Homo sapiens: one gene and its partner. The protein of the gene in region 2 interacts with the protein of the main gene of each other region in a pairwise test. Each region holds a gene or a part of one and is shown on either strand. Other genes may lie near its edges.

What was found.
Region 1: the proteins of CRLF3 (region 2) and PHYH interact in binary tests that used the Homo sapiens proteins (3 or more experiments, as listed by UniProt).

Annotation. Positions count from the first base shown.
Region 1 is NC_000010.11:13,277,038-13,280,566, forward strand, and holds the end of PHYH (phytanoyl-CoA dioxygenase, peroxisomal isoform a precursor), read right to left. Parts: intron 1,318-3,529; coding exon 1,264-1,317; 3' UTR 762-1,263; downstream 1-761. UniProt on the Homo sapiens protein: Catalyzes the 2-hydroxylation of not only racemic phytanoyl-CoA and the isomers of 3-methylhexadecanoyl-CoA, but also a variety of other mono-branched 3-methylacyl-CoA esters (with a chain length of at least seven carbon atoms) and straight-chain acyl-CoA esters (with a chain length longer than four carbon atoms).
Region 2 is NC_000017.11:30,793,307-30,797,769, forward strand, and holds part of CRLF3 (cytokine receptor-like factor 3), read right to left. Parts: intron 4,093-4,463; coding exon 4,005-4,092; intron 3,032-4,004; coding exon 2,854-3,031; intron 367-2,853; coding exon 144-366; intron 1-143. UniProt on the Homo sapiens protein: May play a role in the negative regulation of cell cycle progression.

The sequences.
Region 1 (3,529 bases), on a different chromosome or scaffold from region 2:
ACGGCACTCATGGCAACACTAGATTTAGGAAAACTTGTGCTTAGCAGAATGACAAGAAAGGTACTCTGTTATTTCTTTCTTACTAAAGCCCTAACTAAAATTTGTAAAAATAAGGACTATGTCTCCTTGCTGCCCTCAGCTGGTACCGAAAATATGGTGCTGTCTTGAAATAAGTTTGTTCAGTCCATGCTCACTCCAAATCCAGGGAAAAGTATCTAAAAAGTTCCCTATAGCTTGAAGGAGGTTAGGCTTCATTCATAAATGTGGAAAGTTTCCAGCAGCCCTACCCAATAAGATACATCAAATGAAGTCACCCTCATCTTCGTTCTTTTTATTTATTTATTTTTCATTCCTTTTTTTTTTTTTTTGAGACAGGGTCTTGCTCTGTCACCCAAGCTGGAGTGCAGTGGTGTGATCTCAGCTCACTGCAACCTCTGCCTCCCAGGTTCAAGTAATTCTTCTGCCTCAGCCTCCTGAGTAGCTGGGATTACAGGTGCATGCCACCACGCTCGGCTATTTTTTTTTTTTTTTTTTGTATTTTTGGAGAGATGGGGTTTTGCCATGTTGGCCAGGCTGGTCTTGAACTCCTGACCTCAGGTGATCCACCCACCTCGGCCTCCCAAAGTGCTAGGATTACAGGCGTGAGCCACTGCACCTGGCCCTTGTCTTCATTCTTCAGGAACAGAGGAAAGGACTGGAAAGAACAAGTCTTCTTGTTAAGGGAATGGTTGGGTTGAAGAAATCACAGGAGAAAGCCCTTGTCCGAGCAGGAATATCCACTTTATTTGGACTCCATGACACCGTTCCTATGCCCTTGACTAGATGTGAATGTATTATACATTGTTCTAGATTTGGGGGAAAAAAATCTCTTATGACATAAAATTGGTAGGGAATGGGTTTATCAGAAAGGGGATACAAAACATACCCTAAGCTCCAAATCATTCACTTCTTCTTGGGTAAAGAGCTAACTGAATGAAAGAAATTGATTTAACACTTAAATTAGACACCAACCACCTTTATTGGCTGCCACCCTAAATTAGTTTTCCTTAAAACAGTAATATTTCACTTTTACTGTTTTTTTTTTCCATTAAAGCAACACCATTGTGCTGCAAAACTAACTCTATGCAATTAAGTACCTGATACATGTTTTCTGCTTTTAACAAGTGATAGAAAAGGTTACATCATCTCATTAAGAAAACATTTTCCTTAGACATTTCGTTTGGTTTTGGTTTTCTGTTGAAAGAGTTATAGCAGATGGCTATTTCAAAGATTGGTTCTTTCTCCTTTCACAAGTCGAGCTCGAAACATCCAAATATCCTGGAAATAATATCAAACAGAGTGGGTTTATGGAACACTTCAATCTGCCCTCCATTAACCTTCAATTTCACCATAACACAAAATTGATTTCTAGCTTCTATGAAAGGTTACATAGGGAAAATAATCCCTGTAAGTTATATTCATTAGTAAACAAAACAACTCAACTTAAACTACTTACTCAACTCTTTTTTAAAAATTTTTTGGGGACACAGTCTCACCCCATTGCCCAGGCTGGAGTGCAGCGGCTCACTGCAACCTCTGCCTCCCGGGTTCAAGCGACTCTCCTGCCTCAGCCTCCCGAGTAGCTGGGATTACAGGTGTGCACCACCACGCCCAGCTAACTTTTTGTATTTTCAGTAGAGACAGGGTTTCGCTACACTGGCCAGACTGATCTCAAACTCCTGGCCTCAAGTGATCTGTCCGCCTTGGCCTTGCAAAGCCTCCCAAGTGCTGGGATTACAGGTATGAGCCACCACTCCTGGTCTACTTAACCGACTTCTAAAACAGTGTTAACTAAATTAAGTCAGTGGGTCCCCCAGCTGCTGTCAGTTCTGTTTTATTCAGGATATTTGTTGGTGCCAGCTAACATAACTGGGTCAATGTCATGTCGGGTTACAGAACAAACAGTTCACTGCCATTTTTCTGCATAATTTTTTTTTTTGAGACGGAATTTTGCTCTTGTTGCCCAGGCTGGAGTGCAATGGTACCATCTTGGCTCATTGCAACCTCTGCCTCCTGGGTTCAAATGATTCTCCTGCCTCAGCCTCCCAAGTAGCTAGGATTAGAGGCATGTGCCACCACACCCGGCTAATTTTATATTTTTAGTAGAGACGGGGTTTCACCATGTTGGTAAGGCTGGTCTCAAACTCCTGACCTCAGGTGATCCACCCGCCTCAAACACCCAAAGTGCTGGGATTACAGGAGTGAGCCACTGCACCTGGCCTGATGACTCTTATGTTACTTGTCTGAGCCTTTTTGAGTGTTCTACTCTTGATGAGATGATAATAGTGAACATGGTATCAAGGATTACTGCTTTGTTTGGTGGGTTTCTTCCCCCTCTGCCCTTAATAAAATAATTTAGATGTTCTTATTTCTTGGTTCTTGTTTATTTTTGAGCAAACAGCAAGGTATGGTGGAAAGAATAATTTTCAGATTTGACCTGACTCTAAAATCAAGCTTTGTCGCTTAGCTAGCTTAGATCAGCCTCTGGGATTTGTTTTCTTGTCATTGACAGCATGGAGTTTATACTGCCCCACCGGGTTTTGGTGAAGAAAATAAGAAAATGAATATGAATGTGCTTTTGTACTTTACAGAGAACTATGTAGCAGAGGTTAATATTGTTATTCTAAATATAACTTACAGAGTAATTAAACTAAATGTGGGAGGTATTCATTTAGCACAACCTTGACAAACCTCAAACATAATGTACATATATTTGTTCTCCCTTAAAATTTAGGATGTTAGCTCAAAGCTCCAGTTGACAAAATGTATAGGCATTTTAGGTACTGAACAAAAAGTGAGGAAGGACAAGAATTTCTAGGACCTGCAAATGCAAAATCAGAGCATTTTCAGAGATGCGACACATTTCCAGGTTCTAAAGGGAGAAGCAAGATTCCTTCTTTTGTTGTTGTTGAGACAGAGTCTCGCTCTGTCGCCCAGGCTGGAGTGCAGTGGCATGATCTCGGCTCACTGCAAGCTCCGCCTCCTGGGTTCACACCATTCTCCTGCCTCAGCCTCCCGAGTAGCTGGGACTACAGGCATGTGCCACCAGACCCAGCTAATTTTTGTATTTTTAGTAGAGACGGGGTTTCACCATGTTGGCCAGGAAGGTCTCGATCTCCTGACCTTGTGATCTGCCTGCTTTGGCCTCCCAAAGTGCTGGGATTACAGGCGTGAGCCACCTCGCCCAGCCATAAATACTCTATTCTATATTAATAAACATGGCCTATGATTGGATCTCAAACCTATAACTTTCCTTCTATCCCTTCAGAAGGCTTTTTTTTTGACACATGGTCTCACTCTGTCACCCAGGCTGGAGTGCAGTAGTGCAATCAGCTCACTGCAGCCTTGACCTCAAGCTCCAAGTGAGCCTTTCAACTCAGCCTTCGAGTAGCTGGGACTACAGCTATGCTCCACCCAACCTGACTAATTTTTATTTTTATTTCTTTTTTAGTAGAGATGGAGTCTCACTGTGTTTCTCAGGCTGGTCTCC
Region 2 (4,463 bases):
AGTAAAAGACATGGTGCATGTTGTTCTTATCAATTCAGGATCTATGCTTAGAATAGCTGGTTGTCAGTGTGCTGCCCTTAGCACAGAATACAGGTATTCTAATATATAGTTAGGCTTCAGGAGAGAAAAGGTTAGCAGCATACCATGAGGCACCAATGTGGAATGACCTATCTGGGGGACACTCCAAGGACTCCACTCCTGTCGGCCATCTCCTCGGGCGCAGACTCTGAACTGGTAATCAACGTTGGGGTCTATGTGCAATACTATGAATTCAGTTTCAGAACCTACATATACATCCTCAAAATGATTTGAAGTACATTTACGAAACTGGAGCCTGTAATCTTGGGCTGTAAAGTCATCATCCACCTAGGGAGAAAAGCTTTATGTTAGGTAAAAAACAGAAAATGACTTCTCTCAGCATCACTGCTTAAAAATTTTGAACGGAGCCATTTTGGACCAAGCAGACAGGCCCACATGCTGAATATGGGGTATTCTTGGGAAGGCCATAGAAAATATGCCATCACATCATTATCTCCCTTCTTTTTTTTTTGAGAAAGGGTCTCACTTTGTCACCCAGGCTGTAGTGCAGTGGCGTGATCTCGGCTTATTGCAGCCTCCACACCCCGGGTTCAAGCCATCCTCTTCCTTCCACCCCACAAGTAGCTGGGATTTCAGGTGCACACCACCATGTCCGGCTAATTTTTTGTATTTTTTGTAGAGACTGGGCTTCACCATATCTCAGATCTTTAACTCCTGAGCTCAAGCAATCTTCTCGTCTCAGCCTCTCAAAGTGCTAGGACTATAGGCGTGAGACACTGCGCCTGGGCTCCCTTCTTTTCTTTATTGAACCATGTGTTCTGTATTTCCCAGTCTGATATAAAAAAGTCTGCCTCCTTTGAAGAAATGGCATGTTTTTTAATCAATGCCAAAGATAAAACATTCAAGATTCAGTAAGTCTCCCACAACCATACATCATTCATAATAACCAAGAGATAATTAACATACAGTATACAGAACCCCCATTAATTTTTAGGGGTCCTGCATATATTCTGTATGTTAATTAGCCACCCAATAGAAAAATGGGTAAAAGACATAAATAAGCGTTCTACAGGAGAAGAAACATAAATAGCCAAAAATGTATATTATGAATATTCAACCTAATTTGTACCTAATTTGTAATATGGCAAATACGATCTAAAACCACAACAAGGCCAGACATGATGGCTCATGCCTATAATCCTAACACTTTGAGAGGCCGAAGCGGGTGGAGCACTTGAGCCCAGGAATTTGAGGCCAGCCTAGGCAACACAGCAAAACCCCATCTCTACAAAAAATTACAAAACTTAGCTGGCTGTGGAAGCACATGCCTGAAGTCCCAATTACTTGGGGGCTGAGGCGGGAGGATCACTTGAGCCCAGGAGATTGAGACTGGAGACATGATTGTGCCACTGTACTCCAGCCTGGGTGACAGAGTGAGACCCTGTCTCAAAAACAAACAAATAAATAAAACCACAACAAGGTACATTTAGGCAAAAATATAAAGTCTCACAATGCCAATTATTGGTCAAGATATGGAATAACAGAAACTCATATACTCCTTGGAAGGCTAAATTGATAGAATCATCTTGTGGAAAGTTTGTTATTACCTATCAGCGTATGGATCCAATACTCTAAGAAGACCTCATAATTTTACACCTAGGTAAATATTAATATTTTACAAACTTCACATATGTCCATAAAGAAACACAAGTAAAAATACTTATAGCAAAAAACTGGAAATAACTAGGTCCACTGATAGGAAAAATAATAAAAATGGAATGACAGTCCTGTTAGAAAATAACAACAGCATGTTTATAAAAAAAGAAAAAAAAATTTCCTTTTAATAAAATCTCAGCTGGGCACAGTGGCTCACACCTGTAATCCCAGCACTTTGGGAGGCCGAGGTGGGCAGATCACCTGAGGTCGGGAGTTTGAGACCAACCTGACCAACATGGAGAAACTCTGTCTCTACTAAAAATACAAAAATACTAAAAATACAAACTTAGCCAGGTGTGGTGGCGCATGCCTTAATCCCAGCTACTTGGGAGGCTGAGGCAGGAGGATTGCTTGAACCCGGGAGACGGAGGTTGTGGTGAGCCAAGATCGTGCCATTGTATTCCAGCCTGAACAACAACAACGAAACTCTGTCTCAAAAAAAAAAAAAAAGAAAATGTCAGCCAGGCGGAGTGGCTCACACCTGTAATCCCAGCACTTTGGGAGGCCAAGGTGGGCAGATCACCTGAGGTCGGAGGTTGCATCGCTGCACTCCAGCCTGGGCGACACAGCAAGGCTTCATTTAAAAAAAAAAGGCCAGGCACGGCGGCTCACACCTATAATCCCAGCACTTTGGGTGGCCGAGGCGAGTGGGTCACCTGAGGTCAGGAGTTCAAGAACAGCCTGGCCAACATGGTGAAACCTCGTCTCTACAAAAAATACAAAAATTAGGCAGGTGTGATGGCAGGTGCCTATAATCCCAGCTACTCAGGAGGCCGAAGCAGGAGAATGGCTTGAACCCGGGGGAAGCGGCAGGCGGGGGAGGGCATGGAGGTTGCAGTAAGCCGAGATCACGCCACTTCACTCCAGCCTCGGTGAAAGAGCAAAACTCTGTCTCAAAAAATAAATAAATAAAATAAAAATAAAACTGGAAGAGCTACCTCAGTGTTCCATGTGACTTCATTTTAACTGTAAAGTAAAAGAGATTTTTGTTTGAGAAGAAAAGAATGTATTTAAAAGTAGTCAACGAAAAAATCTGAAAGGCCTCCAAATCGCAAACCCATAATGTGGAAGTCATTTCTAGAATTCTGAATTACATACCTTACACCATCGTACAATGATGCCTCCAGGTTTCTCTATTAGTTCTTCTATCTGTACTGGTGGGCGAGATGCTACTGTTCCATGCTTAAAAATGTGGTCTTTCACTATGTTAAGAATTGAGTCATCCAACTGAGCAGATAAACAAGGCACATCAACCAGTAAAGGTACTTCTGGTAAGCTGAGGAAACAAAGCTCATGTGTTATGAGACCTCTAACTGAGAGTTAAAAAATACAAGAAATATTTTAGAGCAGTCACATGCTTGAAAGATCCTGAAGCCCCCAGTAATTAATTCTCATGGCAGTAGGGGATTTGCAAGATGTTACACAAAGATTCTCTTTTCAAATAAATATAAGTAAGACAGAAAATTGGTAGGATCATAACTGTCCAGTTTAAGCCAAAAGATCTGGTTTACTGGAATATGACTCCATTTCAACAATACATTGATAATTTCTAAAATTTAACAATTCTTTTATATATTGGATTGAAAAAATGTGTAGTAATACTATACCAAGGATTATAATCACAACTATTTCATTAGTAACAGTGGTAATGGGCAGTGAAACGCTTTTTTTTTTTTTTTTCAGACAGAGTCTCACTCTGTCCCCTAGGCTGGAGTGCTGTGGTGCGATCTCAGCTCACTGCAACCTCCACCTCCCCGATTCAAGCGACTCTCTTGCCTCAGCCTCTCGAGTAGCTGGGACTTACAGGCGCACGCCACCATGCCCGGATAATTTTTTATTTTATTTTATACTTATTTTGAGATGGAGTCTTGCTGTTGCCCAGGCTGGAGTGTAGTGGTACAAACTTGGCTCACTGCAACATCTGCCTCCTGGGTTCAAGCAATTCTCCTGTCTCAGCCTCCCCAAGTAGCTGGATTACAGGTCCATGCCCGTCTAATTTTTATATTTTTAGTAGAGACAGGGTTTCAACATGTTGGCCAGGCTGGTCTCAAACTCCTGGCCTCAAGCAATCCACCCGCCTTGGCCTCCCAACGTGCTGGGATTACAGGTGTAAACCACCACGCATGGTCTGAAAACCTTGAAATATATATTCTCTATCTCCCTTAATGAGAATCTTGAACAGAGGGAGGAAAAAAGCAGACATAGTTTAAATGCTTAAAAGTAAGTCAAAAAGGCACAAACTCTTTTACCTGTCCAACTGAATGTGCGAGGCCTTTTTGGTAAAGCTCCACAGTTTCTCATTCTCTTCTCCCACACCACCAAGCATGGCGATTTCACCTACAATCAAGAATAAGAGAACTAGAACAATGAAAATGGTCACATATAAAGTAATCAACACAACTCATGTCTGGGTGGGTCTCTAGCGTTCTTGCAAATAAGTTCTTAAGTGATGCCACAGTCAAATTCCCAAAAAGTTAAAGTAGAAACTATTTTAGACGTGACTCTAAGATCAAATCCAAGAGGAAAAGGGATATACAGTGGCAACATTTTGCCAGAGATGAAAAATCTATCTACTCTATACAAGGAAATCAACCAATTTTAGGCAAAGCAGAAAGCCCAGGGACTTCTTTCCATCTCTCCTACAGAATCATTATGAACTTCAATAGGAGCCAGTACAAAATATTGCCCTGAGAGGTGCAACAGGGGAT